Homo sapiens: one gene and its partners. The main gene of each other region encodes a partner of the protein of the gene in region 3 in a complex. Each region holds a gene or a part of one and is shown on either strand. Other genes may lie near its edges. A codon is read from its position in the direction of its gene.

The links. Proteins that work in one complex are often made in the same cells at the same time.
Region 1: the proteins of CENPA (region 3) and NTMT1 are in contact, whole or in part, in a crystal structure (PDB 5CVD), measured with the Homo sapiens proteins. Residues at the interface, in NP_001800.1 of Homo sapiens: Gly2, Pro3, Arg4, Arg5, Arg6, Ser7; in NP_001273725.1 of Homo sapiens: Tyr19, Trp20, Met30, Leu31, Gly32, Tyr34, Ile37, Trp136, Asn168, Ile175, Asp177, Asp180, Asp212, Glu213, Ile214, Tyr215.
Region 2: the proteins of CENPA (region 3) and HJURP are in contact, whole or in part, in a crystal structure (PDB 3R45), measured with the Homo sapiens proteins. Residues at the interface, in NP_001800.1 of Homo sapiens: Lys64 (codon at 3,171), Leu65 (codon at 3,174), Ser68 (codon at 3,183), Arg69 (codon at 3,186), Arg72 (codon at 3,710), Asp83 (codon at 3,743), Phe84 (codon at 3,746), Asn85 (codon at 3,749), Trp86 (codon at 3,752), Gln87 (codon at 3,755), Ala88 (codon at 3,758), Gln89 (codon at 3,761), Leu91 (codon at 3,767), Leu92 (codon at 3,770), Ala93 (codon at 3,773), Glu96 (codon at 3,782), Ala97 (codon at 4,096), Ala100 (codon at 4,105), Phe101 (codon at 4,108), His104 (codon at 4,117), Glu107 (codon at 4,126), Asp108 (codon at 4,129), Leu111 (codon at 4,138), Leu112 (codon at 4,141), Leu114 (codon at 4,147), His115 (codon at 4,150), Ile132 (codon at 4,201), Glu136 (codon at 4,213); in NP_060880.3 of Homo sapiens: Glu14 (codon at 2,947), Asp15 (codon at 2,944), Leu18 (codon at 2,935), Lys21 (codon at 2,926), Leu22 (codon at 2,923), Ser25 (codon at 2,914), Arg26 (codon at 2,911), Arg28 (codon at 2,905), Phe29 (codon at 2,902), Arg32 (codon at 2,893), Met33 (codon at 2,890), Leu36 (codon at 2,881), Lys39 (codon at 2,872), Tyr40 (codon at 2,396), Pro43 (codon at 2,387), Phe44 (codon at 2,384), Thr47 (codon at 2,375), Pro48 (codon at 2,372), Val49 (codon at 2,369), Val50 (codon at 2,366), Gln51 (codon at 2,363), Met52 (codon at 2,360), Ala53 (codon at 2,357), Thr54 (codon at 2,354), Leu55 (codon at 2,351), Ile65 (codon at 1,098), Trp66 (codon at 1,095), Gly67 (codon at 1,092).

What each region holds. Positions count from the first base shown.
Region 1 is NC_000009.12:129,621,917-129,629,183, reverse strand, and holds the start of NTMT1 (N-terminal Xaa-Pro-Lys N-methyltransferase 1), read right to left. Parts: upstream 3,022-7,267; 5' UTR 2,889-3,021; exon of another isoform or gene 469-2,888; intron 1-468. UniProt on the Homo sapiens protein: Distributive alpha-N-methyltransferase that methylates the N-terminus of target proteins containing the N-terminal motif [Ala/Gly/Pro/Ser]-Pro-Lys when the initiator Met is cleaved.
Region 2 is NC_000002.12:233,851,515-233,859,062, forward strand, and holds the start of HJURP (Holliday junction recognition protein), read right to left. Parts: upstream 3,022-7,548; 5' UTR 2,987-3,021; coding exon 2,870-2,986; intron 2,397-2,869; coding exon 2,330-2,396; intron 1,108-2,329; exon of another isoform or gene 1,107-1,107; coding exon 1,051-1,106; exon of another isoform or gene 1-1,050. UniProt on the Homo sapiens protein: Centromeric protein that plays a central role in the incorporation and maintenance of histone H3-like variant CENPA at centromeres.
Region 3 is NC_000002.12:26,789,050-26,795,104, forward strand, and holds the end of CENPA (histone H3-like centromeric protein A), read left to right. Parts: intron 1-3,081; coding exon 3,082-3,191; intron 3,192-3,706; coding exon 3,707-3,784; intron 3,785-4,095; coding exon 4,096-4,230; 3' UTR 4,231-4,277; intron 4,278-4,762; 3' UTR 4,763-5,540; downstream 5,541-6,055. UniProt on the Homo sapiens protein: Histone H3-like nucleosomal protein that is specifically found in centromeric nucleosomes. Replaces conventional H3 in the nucleosome core of centromeric chromatin that serves as an assembly site for the inner kinetochore.

The DNA of each region.
Region 1 (7,267 bases), on a different chromosome or scaffold from region 3:
CAGTCACTCAAGAGAGGACGGCATTCAAAACTACTCTATAACCTATAACCTATAACCTGAGCCCTTTGGGAGGCTGAGGTGGGAAGACTGCTTGAGCCCAGGAGTTTGAGTCCAGCCTGGACAACAGAGCGAGACCCTGTCTCAAAAAACAAAAAACACTTGGTGGCTGGGAAAATTAAAGACAAAGGTTAAAAAACGAACTACTACTCTTCCACACCATGCTGGCACAACTCCCATTCAGACTGGACCATGGCGAGAGCAAGCCTGTCTCCCTCTCACCGCCCAACTTGGCAAACTGAAGGTTTTGTATTCAGTTCTCTCTCTCGCCTGGCCGGGGAGCTCCTGAGAGCAGTGGCAACATTTGAGATTTATCACCATGCTTCTCTTGCATCCCATGAAACACAAATATTCAACAGAAAGTTCACCTCTGATCAAATGAACAGAATAAATCTGGGGGCAAACACATACCAGGCTGGACTCCATCCGTCTCCTCTCCCAGCATGCAGCTTCCTGGGGGTAGAGACATTACCTTGTACACCATTAGCCCAGTGCCTGATACCAGGTGGGCATTGACTAACTGGTTGCCAAATAATGCAAGAATGGGCTTTGTGCAGCTATAGCCATTTTCCACTCTAAGAAAATCCTACAGACAAAAGTCCAACCATTCAGAACTGGTAAATACTGAAGGCCTGAAGGCTGCTACCGACAATATAATTCTGTGCTTTACCAAAAGCCTTGTAACATGATTCCTTTAAATGTCAGGGTCCCCTGAATAATCTAATTTACAAGAATTCCACTTACACGCAAATTCTGGGAACAAGCCAGGGGAGGCACATCCTGGCCGGGAAATAGCAAGCCTGACTTTGACATCTGCCCTAACAGCTGATTCATTAATAAACGGGATTCCTGGGGTCCTGGCTACATTTTGCCTCGTGGTGTCCAGATTGGAGTGGGGCAGGAGGAGGTCCCTAAGAGTCTGAGGGAACAGCAAGGTCAGTCAGCCAACAGCAGGTGGTCCTGCTACACTCTGCTCCAGAGCACAGATGCCGTATGTGGCTGAAGGGCCTGGGAGGGGGCCAGGAGCACACGGGCTTTGTGTGCACTCTAGGCTAGCTCAGAGAGGAAGACAAACCCCTCATGCCTGGTAAATGGCTGCTCAGCCAGTAAATGTGATCCTACATCCTTCACAGTCACCTGGCTGCTGCCTCCTCCTCCCCGCCAAGGTGTTCAGACCCAAGGTACTGCATCTCTTCTCCCACGACCCATGGAAGAAAACAGTGCTGAAACTGTCACCGGCAGACTTTTGCAGTCATCTCATCCTCCTCACGTAAGTCTCTACGGAAAAGCCTGCCTAAAAGTTACCTCCACCCTCTAGCAGCCTAGTGGACAGAGTCCATCCTCCCTGGATCTTTGTGGACAGCAGCAGGCCACATGCAAACGGCAGAGTGCTCTAAGAAAAAGAAGGAAGTGAGAAAGGGAGGGAAGAAGACAAAACAGGGGATACATTTAAAAACTAACAAAGGCTCTGATGGAGCCAGATGAACCAGATCTGAATCTTGGCTCTGCACACCTGCTGTGTAAGCACAGACAAGACATTAAACCTCACCATTCCTCAGTTCACCTATAAAATGGAACAGTAATACCGACTTTACAGAAAGGCTGTGATTAAAAGTGCATATGAAAAGCTTAAAGTGCTTTGCACAGTGCCGGGCACATATTCTCTCTTGAGCTTAGAAATCTCTGTCAAATGAGATTCTTGTCAACTCTGCCCACTATGAGGATCAAATGGGAAAACTGCCTTAGAATGCCACAGAAGCTGTATTGGACACACCTAGGGGACTGTTACTGGTATGCTGGGCGGCCAAGCCAGCAGACTCAAACAGCTCTGCAAATCAGCCAGAGTGGGGAGTGAGCTTCCTCTGCCTATAAGCACAGAACCCCCACCGAGATTTTTTAGATGCCATCCTTGTGATCCTAGGGCTTCCGGCCTCCACCAAAACGCTCCATGCATCCTTCCAACCCCCGCACAGTCCTCAGTTTACATAGAGAAAAACCAGCACACTAAAGGAAGTGACGTGTCTTTAAACATACAAACAGGAAGCCGAGAACAGAATTAAGGAGGGAATCCAGGCTCCTTATACCAGCCCTGGTTCCTCCCAGAGGCTCATCCCATCTCACTGGGCAATCATTCTACACACCACAACCACCGGTTACACTGTCCCTCCCCGCTGTCAGGGCCTCTGACACCAGTTGTGGCAATCACTTATAGTACAGAGGAGAAACCAAAGTCCAGAGGGAGAGATCACACAGTTGGTGCGCAGCAAAGTCTGGGCTTTTCGATATGGCAGCCTCCCTGCAGACAGGCTGACCTTGGCCGCAAGGGCTCTCGGGCTGTCTTTTTTGAGCTGCACCTGTGTCGGGCTGGCGCTCGGGTGGCACCCAAGGTTAAATACGACAGCAACTTCTGTGCAGCGGGCACTTAACTGTGCCAGGCTCTGAACTGGGCATTTTACCGATTTTACCGATTCCTCCCATCCATCCTCCAAGTGGGCGCTCTCCATATCCCTGTTTCTCGGAAGGGAAACAGGCTCAGAGAAAGGGATTTGCTGCGGTCTGGGGACCGGGGTGGGGGAGTGCCCTGCCTGGGCTTTGAGTGCCTTGACTTTCCTCCTGTACCCCGACCCATGGACTGCTCCGTAGTCCCTGCCCAGGTCCGGCCCGTAGACCTCTTGGGGACGCGCACGTGAGGCCTGTGCCGGCCCGCGCGCACGCGCCGGGTCACGTGACGAGCCGGGGACCCGGGACCTCAGGGCGCCGAAACAGTTAGGGGTCGCAGCCTCCCCTCTCCCAGCGGCTGCCTACCCTTCGCACCGCCTCGCGCTACTCACTCCGGGCGGGGGCTCCCGGGACCGAGAGAAGAAGATGGGGAAGAGGAAGGGAGGGCGGCGGCGGCGGAGACGCCACAAGCCAACCGCAGCTCCGCCAGACCACGACCAGACGCGACAGCTCGCGGCGCGCGCTGCCTTTGTCCGCCAACGTCACTTCCGGGCGTTTAGGGGCGGGCCCATGGCTGGCTCCACCCCCTCGCTCAGCTCGCCCCTCCCCCGCGCGGGCTCCGGATTTAACTTAACTTCTTTTGAAAAATAATTTAAATTTTTTTTTTTTTTTTTTTGAGATAGAATCTTGCTCTGTCAAGCAGGCTGGAGTGCAGTGGCGCGATCTCGGCTCACCGCAACCTCTGCCTCCCAGGTTCCAGCGATTCTCCTGCGTCAGCCTCCAGAGTACCTGGGACTACAGGCGTGAGCTACCACACCCAGCTAATTTTTGTATTTTTAGTAGAGACGGGTTTTCACCATGTTGGCCAGGCTGGTCTCGAACTCCTGACTTCAAGTGATCCGCCCGCCTCTGCCTTCCGAAGTGTTGGGATTATAGGCGTGAGCCACCGCACCTGGCCTAATTTGACTTCTTTAAAAAAAAAAAATTAGAGACGGGGTCTCACCCTGTTGCTCAGGCTGATCTTGAACTCCTGGCCTCAAGCGAGGCTTCCACCTCGGCCTTCCAGACTGCTGGGATTACATGCGTGAGCCACCGCGCCCAACACAGGTTACAGCTCAAAACTTGACTAAATTGACTTTTGGGAATCTAGAAGGACCTCCCGAACGGAAAAGAGCCGCAGCGTCGCCCTCTCCCCGTCCCCAGCACGTACAACAGTTCGTTTGGAGGCTGCAGGCTGGACTTCTAAAAACGAGTGTGTTGTGCGGGCTTTGAGTAAAAAGGGAAAAAAAAGCCATTGGTCCTCAAATCCACCCATCTCCATTAGCATCTTAAAATAATACCGACCCCCCAAAATAAATAAAATAAAAAGAAATACTCTCGGCAGTGCCATGGGATTCCCACTGAAATGAGCAAAACAAGCCCATGACGTTTCCATTCCAAAAGCGTGGCCCTTCCCTAGGCTCCTCCCATGCAAAGAAATTCTGGAGCTATCTCCGAGGCAGCGGTGATGGAAACGGGAGCTTGCAGGTGGGTAGAGCCTGTTAACATTTCCGAGCTTCAGTCTCCTGTCAGAAGAGGAAGTTGAGCAACGTAATAATTACTCAACTTCTGATGCTCTGAGAGGGTTAAACTTGTGGGACATTGCACGTCAGACCTTCAGCTCAGCACCTGCAGTGGGTTCTCAGGAAATGGAAGCTGTTATAATGACAATATCCATCTTAAGTTCATTTTTCCTATACTATTAATAATATCCTTGTGTTGGCAGGGCACGGTGGTGCACGACTCTAATCCCAGCATTTTGGGAGGCCAAGGCAGGCGGATCACCTGAGGTCAGGAATTTGAGACCAGCCTGGCCAACATGGCAAAACCCCGTCTCTACTAAAAATACAAAATTAGCCAGGGATGGTGGTGCATGCCTGTAGTCCCAGCTACTCTGAGGCTGAGGCAGGAGAATAGCCTGAACCTAGGAGGCAGAAGTTGCAATGAGCCTAGATCGCGCCATTGCTTTCCAGCCTGGGTGACAAGAACGAAACTCTGTCTCAAAAATAAAATAATAATAATACTATCCTGGTGTTCCTTCCTCTGGGCGACGCACACAGAAGGTGCTTAAAGTGTGTTTGCTCTAAATGTGTTGAAAGCTACGGTAGAAAGGGGATGCTAAAAAGCCCCTTCTGCATTGAGTCCGCAGGATGTGTGTATGTGCATCTTATTTGGCATACCCTCTAGACTATTCTAGGTCACAACTGCTACCCCTGGTCTGAGCCCCTCTCCCAAGCTTCATTTTCTGTGTCTTTAAGCAAAGGGATTGATCCTGGGCAATTTCAATCGGTGGGGGTGTCCGGAATCCTCCGCCAGGGGGCAGCTCTGATCCAAGCTCTCTGTATGCCTAAAAATCCAGCCCTGTCTTATTTCCTGTCAACAGAAGAGCAAGCCCCTTCCCCACAGCCACGCTCCAAGGCCTTCCCAGGACTGGCCGGCTCCCTGACCTCAAAGCCTCTGGCATCTCTGAATTCCCAAGCCTAGCACATAGTAGTTCCTTGATAAATATTTGCAGAGTGCAAGGGCTGGAGGGCTCCTTAGAAACCATCTAGTTAGGCCAGGCGCAGTGGCTCACGCCTGTAATCTCAGCACTTTGGGAGGCCGAGGCAGGTGGATCACAAGGGCAGGAGATCGAGACCATCCTGGCTAACACGGTGAAACCCCGTCTCTACTAAAAATACAAAAAAATTAGCCGGGCGTGGTGGTGGGCACCTGTAATCCCAGCTACTCGGGAGGCTGAGGCAGGAGAATGGGGTGAACCCAGGATGCGGAGCTTGCAGTGAGCTGAGATCGCGACTCCGTCTCCAAAAAAAAAAAAAAGAAAAGAAAAGAAAAAAAGAAACCGTCTAGTTAATCTGGTGTTTCGCAGCCATTAAAAAAGACACATACCCTTTAAATAAATACAAAAATATCTCCCTCCCCCACTCAATATTGTAGCTCTCCAGGAAAGTATGTCCCTCCATCCCTGGTGAGAAGCATTGACAGAAAATAGAATATATCTTTGGCGACGCGTTCTCTAGTGAGTCACTCTGTTATTTGAATTACAAAGTCGTTTCTTCATTTTCAAATTATGAAACTATGCCACGCCAGTGAAATACTCATGTAAATGACCTCTGTCTCCCACCCCAGCTTCACAATACTATGAGCTTCCTCTCGGCCCTCTCCCAGCCAAGACTCAGAGATAAGGCCCAGGGAGTCCTGAGAAAGAAGACACTTCTCCAGGATCACACAGCAAAACAGCAGACCATGGACTTGAAAGTGGGTCTGTTAATTTCTTTTCTTCCTTCCTTCCTTCCTTCCTTCTTTTTTTTTTTTTGAGATGGAATCTTGCTCTGTCGCCCAGGCTGGAGTGCAGTGGCGCGATCTCCGCTCACTGCAAGCTCCGCCTCCTGGGTTCACGCCATTCTCCTGCCTCAGCCTCCCGCGTAGCTGGGATTACAGGTACCCGTCACCACAACCAGCTAATTTTTTGTATTTTTAGTAGAGACAGGGTTTCACCGTGTTAGCCAGGATGGTCTCGATCTCCTGACCTCATGATCCACCCGCCTTGTCCTCTCAAAGTGCTGGGATTACAGGCGTGAGCCACCGTGCCCGGCTCTTTCTTTCTTTTTTTTTTTATGGAGATGGAGTCTCACTCTGTTGCCCAGGCTGGAGTGCAGTGGCGTGATCTCGGCTCACTGCAACCTCCGCCTCCCGGGTTCAAGCAATTCTCCTACCTCAGCCCCCCAAGTAGCTGGGACTACAGGCACACGCTGTCACGCCCGGCTAATTTTTTTGTATTTTAGTAGAGACGGGGTTTCACCATGTGGCCCAGGCTGATTGCGAACTCCTGAGCTCAGGCAATCCACCTGCCTCGGTCTCCCAAAGTGTTAGGATTACAGGTATGAGCCACTGGAACCTGGCCTCTTTTTTTTTTGTGAGACAGAGTCTCAAATGATCTGTGTAACGGATTAGAGTTGGAGATGTCAGCATGAGCTCATGTTTAGCTTAATATAAGTACAGATGGTTACCTATAGAAATATTTATAGATATGTGTGTGTTTCATAGTATACACACACATTTCTTTGTCAGCTGAGACTGCCTGAAAGAAATGACATCTCAATAGCAAGAAGCACACCTAGCACCCAGACCTTGGATTATTATTATTATTATTTTTGAGATGGAGTCTCGCTTTGTCACCCAGGCTGGAGTGCAGTGGCATGATCTCAGCTCACTGCAACCTCCGCCTCCCAGGGTCAAGCGATTCTCCTGTCTCAGCCTCCCAAGTAGCTGGGATTATAGGTGCACAACACCATGCATGGCAAATTTTGGTATTTTTTGTAGAGACGAGGTTTCACCATGTTGGCCAGGCTGGTATTGAACTTCTGACCTCAGGTGATCCGCCCGCCTCGGCCTCCCAAAGTGCTGGGATTACAGGCGTGAGACACCGTGCCCCGCAGGGTCTGTTCATTTCTAGGTCCATTGTATTCTGACTGCCTGGTCTTGGGGTGGAAGTTCTACTTCCAGAGCCACCCAGCCTAAGCCTCCCAGATCTGGAAAGGGTAGGCCTGGCTGCCCTGGTCAGAGTCCCAGTGCCCCAGGTGGCTGCGGCCAGGGCATCCAGGGCACAATAGCCCCACCCTTAGTCCCCAGGCCTCAGTGCCCACTGCTACTCAGATGCCCAGGGGTGAGGGGCGGATCACAATGACCCTGAAGCGGCCCAGAGGCAGCCGGGAGGGGCTGGGAGAGGCAC
Region 2 (7,548 bases), about 210 Mb from region 3:
AAAGGAAGCCACAAATAGCTAATTGCCTATCAACAGGAGAGCAGTTAAAAAAACATGATTTTTTAAATAATTATATAATTTTATAATTATACAACAGTTGATGAAGAGAAGAGTTTGCCAGATGTATTAACCGGAAAAGTGAGGGAGAAAAAAATGCATTTATAAAGATATGTATTATAGGGAATCACATTGTACTAAAATAGCATTAGTGACCATCTTTGCAGAGAGGAATCAGCTCATTTATGTAGTTGTATGTACTTTTAACATTTTTATGACTAGAATAATTAATCAAGAAGATTTGATTTCAAATTTGCTGTTAATATCGTCACATTGATCTTGATGTTTTTCATTCTTTCATACAGGTTCCTTGACCTGTGACCACAGAGAGGAACCATGTGGCATCTGAGAGGCAGTGATTAACTGAATACCAGATAACCTGGCAAAAGCCACTGTGGCAAAAGGGCTCCTGGATGCCCCCGTAGAAAGGCCAACAGCACCTTCCACTAAAATAACGGGTCTCAGAGCGACAACACCCTCGGATCAACTAGGCAGGGAAGCCAGGGTCTTCCGAAGGTAGAAAAATGCAGAAGGAAAGATGTGTGATCCTCCAGGCTGCACCTCTCCTCATCTCTCTTCCTCCCCTTTCAAAACAGGAAGAGAGACATTCTTCTTCCCTAGAAGGAACTGGATTTGGTATTTTCTGTAAGGACCCAAACAAAGTGAGTGCCTCGCTGGGCTGGCACGTGACCTTGGGGAGGGTTACCCAACTGGCCCAGCCTCTGCACATGTATTATCAGAGCCCCTCAGCCTGTGACACAGGAAACACAGGGTGATGAAAAAGGCCAAATATTACACAGTGACTCCTTGCACTTGACAAGCTACAGAAGAAATGCTTCTAAATCCTTAAAAACAGAAAGAGTATAATCATGAGAAAAAGTGCCCCGTGGTGGCCTCTGCGTAAGCTCAGAGGTTGGGCATACCCACACCTTTATTCATATGAATACTCCTCCACAGCAAGGTTATTTGGCAATAAAATTTGACACTAAATACCTGGATCTCTCCTTCGTTTCTTTCCTTTATTAGTCTTCCACCCCAAATTCTCAATCCTGAAGAAAAGAAACAAAAATGACCATTTACATAATCCTGAACGCTGAACTTCTGCTCAATCTGTGTTCACCAGATGCCAAAGTGACAGGCAAAAAAAAGGTACAATATTAAAACCAAGCCAGGTTTCTGATACCCTGCGATTGTTCCTCTTTGTAAAGTTTCAGGTTTTTAAGGCAAATTCGTCATTCATGGAAATCTCTCCTACCTACTAGAAAACGGCTCATCAAATTACATCATTAGCCCAAAAAGTTAAATGAAAACAAGGAACATATGACAGCGACTGTCCTTAAAATATATAGAGGGCAATCTATATACCATATAGAGGGAGTAAGCACTTTTCGCAGGCAATCTCTACATCCCATATACTGAATGAATGCTTTCTAAGGGCAATCTACATGTTATACAGAGACCAAAGGGTAGCAGACCTGCCACTGGAATATTTTAGTTTCTGCCTGTGTAAACTTTTCACCCAAGATGTGTCTGGATTGGCTATAAAGGCAGAAAGGTAGGATTTCTTTTAACTCAAGGAGCAGATCTTGTGAACCTTCTGTGTCCGTTTAATGCAACATAGAACTTGCTCTGAGGTTTGTTTTCATTAAGTGATACTGAGTTAGTTATAAAGCTATATGGGAGGAATTGACCCCAGCCAGTGCAAAGTGTCACCAGCTATTTACCAAAAAGAATCCACAAGATTTCAGTCCGTTTACATTAACTATTAAACGGAATGCCTTCTCCTCCCTATTCAAGTACTTGGAGCCTCAAGGAAGACAGTTACTACTCCAAGTTAAACAGGGCAAACAATAGTCAATGTGAGTATTCACAGTGCGGGGCGGGGTACTGTTCACAGTTTCATAGGGATTGTACGTGACTGTTACAACACCCACGCCCAGGAGACATTATTGTCATCATCCTTCCCATTTCACAGATGAAGACACTGAGACCAGTCCAGCTAAGCAACTGCCCCACGCTGCCATGGTGGGGAGGTGGCCAGCGGGGATGCCAACCCGGTAAGCCGGAGGCATGTGAGCCAGGAGGCACCTATGTCTCTTCAGGAATTGTTCTAATAAGTAATTCAAGTAATTTACAGGTTTAAGGGCACCAATGTTTTGGTTCCTATTAGTTAGGTGAACAATGTTTACTTCTTAAGAGAGCAGGGACAGCATTTCAACTACTCCATTCACACTCTTCACCCGAATACTCAGAAGGTGGGGAAGACCCTTACCCTGTGGCGTCTCGTAGGTCAGCGTGGCCATTTGCACCACCGGGGTGTCCTCGAAGGGCTGGTTGTACTGCGGAGGAGGAAGGGGCTTCCTGTCAGGTTCCAGGGCCACGAGGGGCCCCAGACCCGGGAGGAGGCGGCGCCAGCCCGTGAGAGGCCGTTAGTCTGGCCTGGGGCGCCCCAAACGCGGTCTCTGCAGCGGAGCCCCCAACTCCGCCTCTCTCGTCCCACTCAGGAGCACCCCCAGCCCCACCAAACCCTCCTCTCTGCACCCGAGCCCCAGGCCTGCTTCCCCACTCCCCGTTCCGGAGGCCCCAGTCTTTCCTCCCCGTCCCCGCACCGAAGCCTTCGGCGCTGCCTCCTTTTTCCCTCTCCGGAGCCCCCAGCTCCGCCTCCACCTTCTCTCCGCATCCAAGCCCCAGTCCCGCTTCCCCAACCCCCGCTCCGAGTCCTCAGAGCCCCTTCCCTTCCCGTCCTACGTCCCCTCCCAGCCTCACTCCGACACGCAGGCCTCCCCTCCCGGCGGACCGGCGGGGGCCGCACCTTCTCTATCAGCCGCTGCATGCGCCTCTGGAAGCGGCGGCGACTGGCCCTGAGCTTCTGCAGCAGCTGGTCGTCTTCCACGTCCTCGCCCTCCATGGCGCGCAGCGTACCCAGCATCGGACCCAGCCAGTACCCAAGCGCCAACCCGGACTGCAGGGCCTCGCGCGCCACAAACTCAAATAGGAGACTCCGCCCTCCCTGCCTTCCTCTCGGTTTTCTATTGGCTAGAGCGGAGAAGCCGGGCACTGATTGGGCCTTTCAAACAAATTTGCGTCCCACCTTCCGGCCAATCCACTCCCGAGTTTCCAGCCACGCCCCAATGTCCGGCGGAAGGGAGGGAGGGTCTCCGGCCGCCACGGCCGGTGGTAGTTGTACAAACAGCTGTGTGCTTATTCATCAGCGGTGCTGTGCGAGATCCGGTGGGATGCGTGTCATCTCCCGCGCTGTGCACCGGAGATAAGTGCGGCCTGGAGATTTCTGCGTGACTTGCTCTGGGTGTCGCCGCTGGGCGAGGTCCGCCTTCCTCACCCCTCCGCCTGGGATCCCGGCGCAGTTTCCAGGGCAGGGGCCTAAGAAAGACAACCCCAAATTACCAACCCAAAAGGAGGCAGGATAGCGAATATTCATCTAGAAGGAAAAAATAAGTCTCAACGAATGACACATTTAAAGATGCTGACAAATGCGATACACATCACAAAATCCAGGAAAATACTTCTATTAACCCAGCTTTTTCCCTATGTATTTCTGATTGCATATTCTGCTTCTTCATTGATATTAATCTTGTAATATTTTCTCCAGAGAGAAGAGCAAGATAAATCAGTCTTTAGTATGGTTGATGGAATTTATGATTGACATCTTAGGAAAGTTTCATTCAGCTTCATCACTTAACCACATTTGTGTGCTTGTGCTGATATGATTACCATAGTATGTGATTGAAAATAAAAGCATTACTGAGCACCAGGAGGTCCCTTAGAGGGGGCTCTTCACCTCCTTTCAGCCTGCACGGCAATTCTATCATGATGTCCTGCGGAAATTTAGGTGGGAGTGGGTGGAGGGTAAGAACTTCAGGGCTCATGTAGTGTGTGTGTCCACAAAACGTGTTGCGTTGTGCTGGACACAGAGATGTGCTGGCCTGATTCCCCTTAAGATGCCACAGCTGCTAGGAGGGCAGTTGGCAGGGGCCTTCAGTTGTCAGCCTATTCTGGGATGATTCAGTTGCAGAGAACTCCCTCACCCAAGGTCCTGCTGCCCCAGGGTGGCCCAGCACCAGTGACTGATCCAGGTGGGAACAGGAAGGCTGTATCATTTCAGTCTGATGGAAGAAAACCCTGGGCCACTTTATCTTCCGAGCTCTCAATTCCACGGAATTGGATGGGGTAACCTACCAATCCTGTTTCTTTCCTTCCCTTCCTCCCTATATAAACATCCTCTCTGAGTCTTCTCCAGTTGCAGGATCTACACATTTAACTTGTACCTTTTCCAATTTTCACAAACAGACCGAGGTGTCTTCCTCCTCCTTCCTTAGGAGTGTTCAGAAACTTAACATGCTCTTCCTTGGACTCTGTGCTTCCCACACATAATTTACTTTTCAAACATCTAACTGGGCCCATTTAGAGACTTGAGACCTTGAATAAGATTTTCTTTTTTCTTTTTGAGTTTTGGATGATTGACTCTTCCATTGTTACCAGATAGAGTTGTCCAGGTTCTTGGTGTGTTGAACAAAGAATTGAACAAAACACACAAAGTAACAAAGGAATGAAGCAACGAAAAACAAAGCAACAGGAGAACGGAGTAAGGAAAGCACAGATTCATTGAAGACAATTCACAGAGTGCGAGCGGACTGGAGCCCGCAGCTCAAGAGCCTCTTCAATTAGGGTTTTTATAAAGCCAAAAGAACTTGGCAACACCCCTGGGTACCCTTTAGAGGCCTCCAATTGGTTACACCCTATGAAGGATTGGCCTGTGACCAATCAGAGCCTAAAGTGGAAACTTGGCCTGCAGTCATTCAGGGGCTGAAGTGGAAACTTCTTTCTTGTTATCACGGGAGTGAAGATGTAGCCTATGTCCTGCCCAATCTTGCTTAAAACTGGCTGCACCTGCTGTTCTCTTGCTTATGCGAACTGGCTGCATCTGCTGTTCCTTTGCTTATGCCTCAACCCTTTGCTACCCCAGTTCCCTATTCTCCTGCCTCACCATGACTCTCTAACAAGCACGATAGTACCAGTTTTCAAAACTGGCGTCTCCCAGGGCTTATTCTCTATTCCTGGGAAACCATTCCAAGATTTCCTTTGCTGGCTTCACTGACAATCCAAGCATCTGCCTCTGTCCTAGGAGTTTGGGGGCAGCTTCAGTGGAAAGATTTCTCAATCTCAAGTTCAAGTCTTTAATTGAAGTCCAAAACATACTTGCTTTAGCCAAACTCCTTCTGAGCCAGCCAAAGTCCATGCATTAACCCTTATTGTTCTGGCCTGGTGGTCTTCCAGTCGTCTCTGACTGGCTTTCCCCATCCCATGGTCTAAAGTGGTGCTCCAGCTAAAGAAAGAAGAACCCTGTATCATGCTTCTCATGTGATGCTGTAGCAGGACAAGCCGCAGACAAAACCCCTCAGACACCGAGTTAAAGAAGGAAGGGCTTTATTCAGCTGGGAGCTTCGGCAAGACTCACGTCTCCAACAACCGAGCTCTCCCGAGTGAGCAATTCCTGTCCCTTTTAAGGGCTCACAACTCTAAGGAGGTCCATGTGAGAGGGTCGTGATCGATTGAGCAAGCAGGGGGTAAGTGACTGGGGGCTGCATGCATCAGTAATTAGAATGGAACAGAACGGGACAGGGATTTTCACAGTGCTTTTCTATACAATGTCTGTAATCTATAGATAACATAACCGAGTAGGTCAGGGGTCGATCTTTAACTACCAGGCCCAGGGTGTGGCGCCAGGCTGTCTGCTTGTGGATTTCATTCCTGCCTTTTAGTTTTTACTTCTTTCTTTAGAGGCAGAAATTGAGCATAAGGCAATATGAGGAGTGGTCTCCTCCCTTAATGCCATTCTCTGTAACACCTCACCCTACCACCCTTGGCAGCCTAACCATATTACTCCAGACCTGCTAAGCAAACTCCTTTGCCACCACTTTCCACTCCCACATAACAGGGAAGGATCACAAGTCAGCTCCTTCCCCAGCAGCAGGTTTCTGGGTGCAGCATCTTGGAATCTCACAGGGTTTCCAGAGATGACGGCGGGTGGCTCCGGCTGCCCCTGCACAGTGCCCTCTACTGGCCGGGCTGGGATTTCCAACCCTCCAAGTGCTGTTTAAATGCCTAGGAAATAGTTCTCTTTAAAGTTATATTACGGCTGCTCTTATAAAATGTGCCTGAATTTTGCTTCAAATAAAAGAGATGGAGACTTATTCTGCATGGAGTTGTCATGTAAATATGTTTCTGTTGGAAAGGTGTGGAAATGTTACCACCAGTCTGTGGTTGGAGAAGCGCAGCTTTTGGCTGGTCCCAGCATTGACACAGAAACTGCTGTGTAACGGTGAGAATGTCAGTCTAAGATAAATTATCGCAAACATCAGACCCCACCTATTAGGCTGCTAAGAAAAGGGTTTGCTTTTTTCTGTTGCCCTAGAGCTGATGCAAACACAGAGGCTGTGAAATAGGCAACAAGCTGACTTTCCACGAGATGTCAGCCAAAGCTCACAAAATGTGTTGTTTGATTGAATGAGTCTCACATCTAACTGAAGTAATTAAGGATGCTGGCAAGAATTTAGCTGGAGGATCTTTCGTGAAGCAGTTTATAAAGTCCAATACTAGAAGGATGGCAAAATAAATGATGATAGATACTTGTGTTCTATTGGCAAGAATTTTGAAGAAGTGTAATTATTGATATCAAAATTCTATATGATCTGTTTAATACAAAAAGGTTATAAACCTGTATTATGTGTGCATTTAAAAAGTATATATTATATAATATAAAGTATGATTATACATGTTTTAAAAGTGTGAGTATATACGTCTCAGAATGTTTCCAGGGCCGTCTCTGGATGATGGTGTGATGAATTATTTTTAATATTAGTTTTCCATAGCTGCATTTTCTAGAATGAGCGTTTGCTGTGCAATTATGAGTTTGCATTACTGATGTAATTAGAAAACACAGGGGGCCAATTATCTTAGTTCATTTTGTGCTGCTATAATAAAACCTGAGAGTAATGAACCTGTAATTTATAATGAACAGAAATTTATTTCTCACAGATCTGAAGACTGGTGAGTCCCAGCCAGACTGAGTGATTGGCCTGTGGTGAGGGTCTGAGTGATTGGCCTCTGGCGATGGTCTTCTTGCTGTGCCATCTCATGGTGTAAAGTAGGAGAACAAGAGAGGGCAAGAGAGAGCAAAAGGGAGCCAAACTCATTCTTTTTTTTTTTTTTTGAGACAGTCTTGCCCTGTGACCCAGGTGGAGTACAATGGCATGATCTCAGCTCACTGCAACCTCTGCCTCCTGGGTTCAAGTGATTCTCCTGCCTCAGCCTCCTGAGTAGCTGAGATTACTGGTGCGTGCCACCACACCTAGCTAATTTTTTGTATTTTTAGTAGAGATGGGTTTGGCCAGGCTGGTCTCAAACTCCTGACCTCAAGTAATCCACCCACCTCAGCCTCACAAAGTGCTGGGATTACAGCCACTGTGCCCA
Region 3 (6,055 bases):
CCCTCTACTTCCCTTCATAGCTGTCCTTTTAAAATAGCCAGACTTGTTAGGTCCACATACATTGCATCTGATTCCTCCCTTCCTAGTGACCCTACAACCCACTCCAATCTGACTCCCCACAACCACTACCCCCACTTCTAATCTGCTTGAACTACTCCTGTCAGGGTCACTAGCACCTTTTGTAGTGCCAAATCCAGTAGGTGGGTCTGTGTTCTTACTGTGTCTCAGAAGCATTTGACGCAGTGGGCCTCTTTCTCCTTGAAGCGTTCTGTTCCCTTGGCTTCCATGCCACTGTGCACTCTGGCAGTTCTGCTTGGTGTTCTCTACTGCCTGTGCTGCCTCCCTCGGCTCCTTGATGTTGGACTTCCTTGACATCCTTTTCCTTTCTACCCCCTCCCTAGGTGGTCTCATCTCCTCCGTGGCTCTAAATCCCACTCATACATTGACAGCTCTCAAATATCTGTATACCTGGATCTCTCCTCTGACCCCAGATACCTATATCTAACTGCCTTTCTACCTGAAGGCTCTTGGTTATGTTAAACTTAACACACCCAAAACTGAACTTCTGGTTACTCCCCTCCAGCCCCTTCATCCTCAGCTTCCCCATTTCAGTAAATGGCACAACTACCCACCCAGTTGTTCAAACCACAAGCCTGGGAGACCCCCGTCTCCAATACAAATGCAGGTCCAGATAATTCTACTTCCAAACTGCATCCTTAATCACTCCATTTTCACCATCTCTGCTCCCACTAGCCTAGTCCAAGCTACCAGCAGCTCTCGAGCAACTGTGAGAGCCTCCTAATCAGCTGCCACTCCACTTCCACTCTGTCCCTTTCTACTTCTTTCCTTACACAGCAGCTGGAATGACCTTCCACATCTCTATCCTGCATAAAACTCTTCCCTGGCTTCTTATTACAGTAGGATTAAATTCCATCTCCTCATGTTGGCATTTCAAGACCCAGCTACTAAATTTTTGATCCCAGTTCTTTTCCATGATCTCTCTAATTGGTTACTTTTCATAACCACTTGTTCTTGGGTCATGGATTTCATATCTCTGTTACCTCTCTGAGTTCATTAACCATTTTTCTCTCAAAGTTTCTATTTCTTTTCTCTATTAACTCAATTTCCTCTGGTATTGGCTATTTTGTTTGTTGAGTTTGGTTCCTTTCTTTCATGGTATTGGCCTTCTTAAATTGTTGGGTGATCTTTAGTTGTGTTCATCTTCAAATTTTCTGTGAATGCTATGTCTTGTTTATTTTTTTATTTTATTTTATTTATTTATATATTTTTGTTTGAGACACAGTCTCATTCTTGTTGCCCAGGCTAGAGTACAGTGGTGCGAGCTTGGCTCACTGCAACCTCCATCTCCTGGGTTCAAGCAATTCTCCTGCCTCAGCCTCCCAAGTAGCTGGGATTACAGGTGCCTGCCACCATGCCCGGCTAATTTTTGTATTTTTAGTAGAGATGGGTTTCTCCATGTTCATCAGGCTGGTCTCGAACTCCTGACCTCAGGTGATTGACCCACCTTGGCCTCCCAAAGTGCTGGGATTACAGGCGTGAGCCACCGCACCCAGCCCTATGTCTGTTTATTAAAGACTGCCTCCAGTGACTGGATTGCCAACTGGTGGTGGGGAGGGAGGGAGGTGTCAGTAGTTTTTCTCCTGGGCATGGGTCTTCCCAGTTTTAAATGTTATCAGTCTTCTGGACACTGCCCTGTTTCATTGGCCTGTGTTCTCTAGCCTCACCCAGGGATGGTCTCCTCTGCTGGCTGCCTGGCACAGGCCATCTCTGGATTGTCTCACCTACCCTACTTGCTCTTGCAGCTCTTCTAACACTTCGTGATTAGTTTATTGTATTAAATGCCTTCTATCGAACTTGGTGTAGAGTCTCTTTGCTTGGCTGGATCCTGAATAACATTTCTGAAACAATTTTATCCGTCAACATGTTATTTTTGTATTTTGTTTGTTCAACTTATCAGATGTTCACTCATCTTGATCCTTGGTTGTAATTATGGAGCAACTGTGCTGTTTTTTCTTTAACTTTATTTTCACTAACTTATTTTCTAATATTTCTTTTGTTCTATCTTGTTTTGGTTTACTTTAATAACTCTGTAATACTTAATTTGACTGCTTGGCTCAGATACCTTTTAGTGTTCTTGTTTTCTAATAGGAACACTTTAAGGCTATGCATTTTCCTCTAGTACTATTTTGGCTGTATCTCATAAGTTTTGGGATATGGGCTTTTTATTGTTATTCATTTCCAAATAGTCTAATTTCAATTAAGTTTCCTCTTCAACACAGGTTAGTTAGAAGAAACTGGTTTTTGATTCATGAGTTTTTAATTTCCAATTAGAGAATTTGGCTTTTTTGATTCCTACTTTTGGGAATGTTTTTAAAATTATTTTCTTTTTTGTTCTTGTTGGAACCAGGATTTGAGCCAAAGGCTCTGTCTCCACAGCCCAGGTGCCTGACACTGACACTGAGTTAGGCCACACCTTACACAGGTCTCAGCTTGGCCACTAATGAGGGCTGGCCAACCATCTTCACCTCGCTGGGCCTCAGGATGATCAAGACAAGGGAATTGTACTAGTCTCTCAGATTCTTTCCAGCTGTAAAAAACAAACCAACAAAAAATCTAAAACCAAAATAACTGAGCTTCCAATCTAGGTGGGAAAGATCTAAGACTTGTACAAAGTCCTGCAAAGCCCAGAGGAGGGCGGTCACCCATCTGTTTGGAAGGATCAGGATTCGGGAAAGACTTCATGGAAGAGTTAGCATTTAAAATCAACTGCAGAGGATCATTCACTCATTCATTTAACAAATGTTTATTTAGCACCTATCTGCTATTTTCTAATTGCTGAAGATAGCAGCAAAATTACTATATATCAGGTTGGTGCAAAAGTATTGTGGTTTTTGCCATAACTGCAATGACTTTTGCAGCAACCTAATAAAACAGACAAAAATCCCTGCTCTGTGGAGGGTAGGCACATAGATATAGTCTAGCAATTTGACAGCTTACCTGACTCAGCCAAGCTGCGAGGCACCACCTATTTTCCACTGAACTTACCTTTCTTTTGCTCAGGCGCTTCCTCCCATCAACACAGTCGGCGGAGACAAGGTTGGCTAAAGGAGATCCGAAAGCTTCAGAAGAGCACACACCTCTTGATAAGGAAGCTGCCCTTCAGCCGCCTGGTAAGCTCCGGGAGCTTCCCACCAACCCCTATGCCACCCTCCTTTTTTTAAATTTTCCCAGGTATTAGGGACCCTACTGTCTCTTAACTAACTGGCCAAGGGACCTCTTTTGTAACCTGGTAGGGGATTCTTTTCTGAAAACATGAGCCCTCCAAGAGCACCTTGTAATTCTTTATGGAATTGATTTCTAACCTCTACTACCTTTTTAAAACTGTAGTTTTTGACTGTATAAATAGGAACTCTCTCGTTTGTCCACCTTAGATCCCTTTTCCTATCCTGGGAGATTGCCTCTCATCACCCAATTACTGGTGATTTCCCCATCACCAGTAAGAGATCCGCCAGTTCCTAAGCTCCCAGGAGTCAACACCTGCTCCTAATTGGGTCCTAAGATTAAGAGCCAGGAAAAAATAATGGAAAGGAAGATTCACTGGAACTCATGGAGAGCATCATTGTCCCTTGAATCTCTCTTCTGTTACTCCCTACTCCTACTCCTCCCCTTCCCCACTCCTTCACAGGCAAGAGAAATATGTGTTAAATTCACTCGTGGTGTGGACTTCAATTGGCAAGCCCAGGCCCTATTGGCCCTACAAGAGGTAAGAAGGCACCAAGGCACAATTGGGTGAGGGCTGAGTGGGAGAAAGAGGCAGCCTAGAATTCTCCAGTGCTGACTGGAGTGTCACATGCTGAATCTGACCTCTGGAAAAGAACAATGAGGTAACCTCTGAGGGTTTGGAGGCTGGATTCTGCGTGGTGATAGCAGAATTCCCTGGCAAAGTTCAGTCTCATTCTGTGAATAGTTTCCTACAATCCTTTGAGCCCTCAGAGATTAAGTTTAGCAGGTTTCCAAAAAAAAGCAGCCCGTGGCCCTTCATCTGTGTCCGTCTTTTTCTCTTTCTGTCTCCAGGCAGCAGAAGCATTTCTAGTTCATCTCTTTGAGGACGCCTATCTCCTCACCTTACATGCAGGCCGAGTTACTCTCTTCCCAAAGGATGTGCAACTGGCCCGGAGGATCCGGGGCCTTGAGGAGGGACTCGGCTGAGCTCCTGCACCCAGTGTTTCTGTCAGTCTTTCCTGCTCAGCCAGGGGGTAAGCTCATCCTCTTTCACAGGACTGGGGCTGGAATTTCTCAAGTAATTTCCTTTCTCCATCCATAGTCCCTTGTCACCTCGCCTTCCCTTTGTTCTCTAGTAAAGGTTGATCTAGTTTTGACTGCCTGGGACAATGTGGTTTGTGCCCTTTTGTGCAATGTTAGATAAAAGATATCTTTCTATTAAATAATAACCAGATGACCCTAATTTCTTTTGGTTGTTATTGTTGTTGTTTTATTTTTATAAGACAGGGTCTCTGTCATCAGTGTTGCCATCGTGGCTCACTGCAACTCCTGCCTTGGCCTCCCAAAGTGTTGAGATTACAAGAATCAGATGACCTCATTTTGATTAAGAGAAAACTTTCTAATAAACTTTCTAATAAAAGAGAACACTTTCTAATAAAAACTTTCTCTTTTTTGATTAAGAGAAAGTTTTCTTACTTTTGAAAATGGCTTGTTAGTAAGTGTGCTTCCTTAATTTCAGGGATGATACCGGGGACTCTCCAGAGCCATGACTAGATCCAATGGATTCTGCGATGCTGTCTGGACTTTGCTGTCTCTGAACAGTATGTGTGTGTTGCTTTAAATATTTTTCTTTTTTTTGAGAAGGAGAAGACTGCATGACTTTCCTCTGTAACAGAGGTAATATATGAGACAATCAACACCGTTCCAAAGGCCTGAAAATAATTTTCAGATAAAGAGACTCCAAGGTTGACTTTAGTTTGTGAGTTACTCATGTGACTATTTGAGGATTTTGAAAACATCAGATTTGCTGTGGTATGGGAGAAAAGGCTATGTACTTATTATTTTAGCTCTTTCTGTAATATTTACATTTTTTACCATATGTACATTTGTACTTTTATTTTACACATAAGGGAAAAAATAAGACCACTTTGAGCAGTTGCCTGGAAGGCTGGGCATTTCCATCATATAGACCTCTGCCCTTCAGAGTAGCCTCACCATTAGTGGCAGCATCATGTAACTGAGTGGACTGTGCTTGTCAACGGATGTGTAGCTTTTCAGAAACTTAATTGGGGATGAATAGAAAACCTGTAAGCTTTGATGTTCTGGTTACTTCTAGTAAATTCCTGTCAAAATCAATTCAGAAATTCTAACTTGGAGAATTTAACATTTTACTCTTGTAAATCATAGAAGATGTATCATAACAGTTCAGAATTTTAAAGTACATTTTCGATGCTTTTATGGGTATTTTTGTAGTTTCTTTGTAGAGAGATAATAAAAATCAAAATATTTAATGAAAATGGACTTACTGTTACAGCATAGAGATTATACTGTACTTTTTGTGTGTTAAAAATAAGTTCTTTATTTGTTTGCAAACAGCCACAATTTTTTTTTCTTTTTTTTTTTTTTGAGATGGAGTCTTTTTTTTTATTGATCATTCTTGGGTGTTTCTCGCAGAGGGGGATTTGGCAGGGTCATAGGACAATAGTGGAGGGAAGGTCAGCAGATAAACAAGTGAACAAAGGTCTCTGGTTTTCCGAGGCAGAGGACCCTGCGGCCTTCCGCAGTGTTTGTGTCCCTGGGTACTTGAGATTAGGGAGTGGTGATGACTCTTAATGAGCATGCTGCCTTCAAGCATCTGTTTAACAAAGCACATCTTGCACCGCCCTTAATCCATTTAACCCTGAGTGGACACAGCACATGTTTCAGAGAGCACAGGGTTGGGGGTAAGGTCACAGATCAACAGGATCCCAAGGCAGAAGAATTTTTCTTAGTACAGAACAAAATGAAAAGTTTCCCATGTCTACTTCTTTCT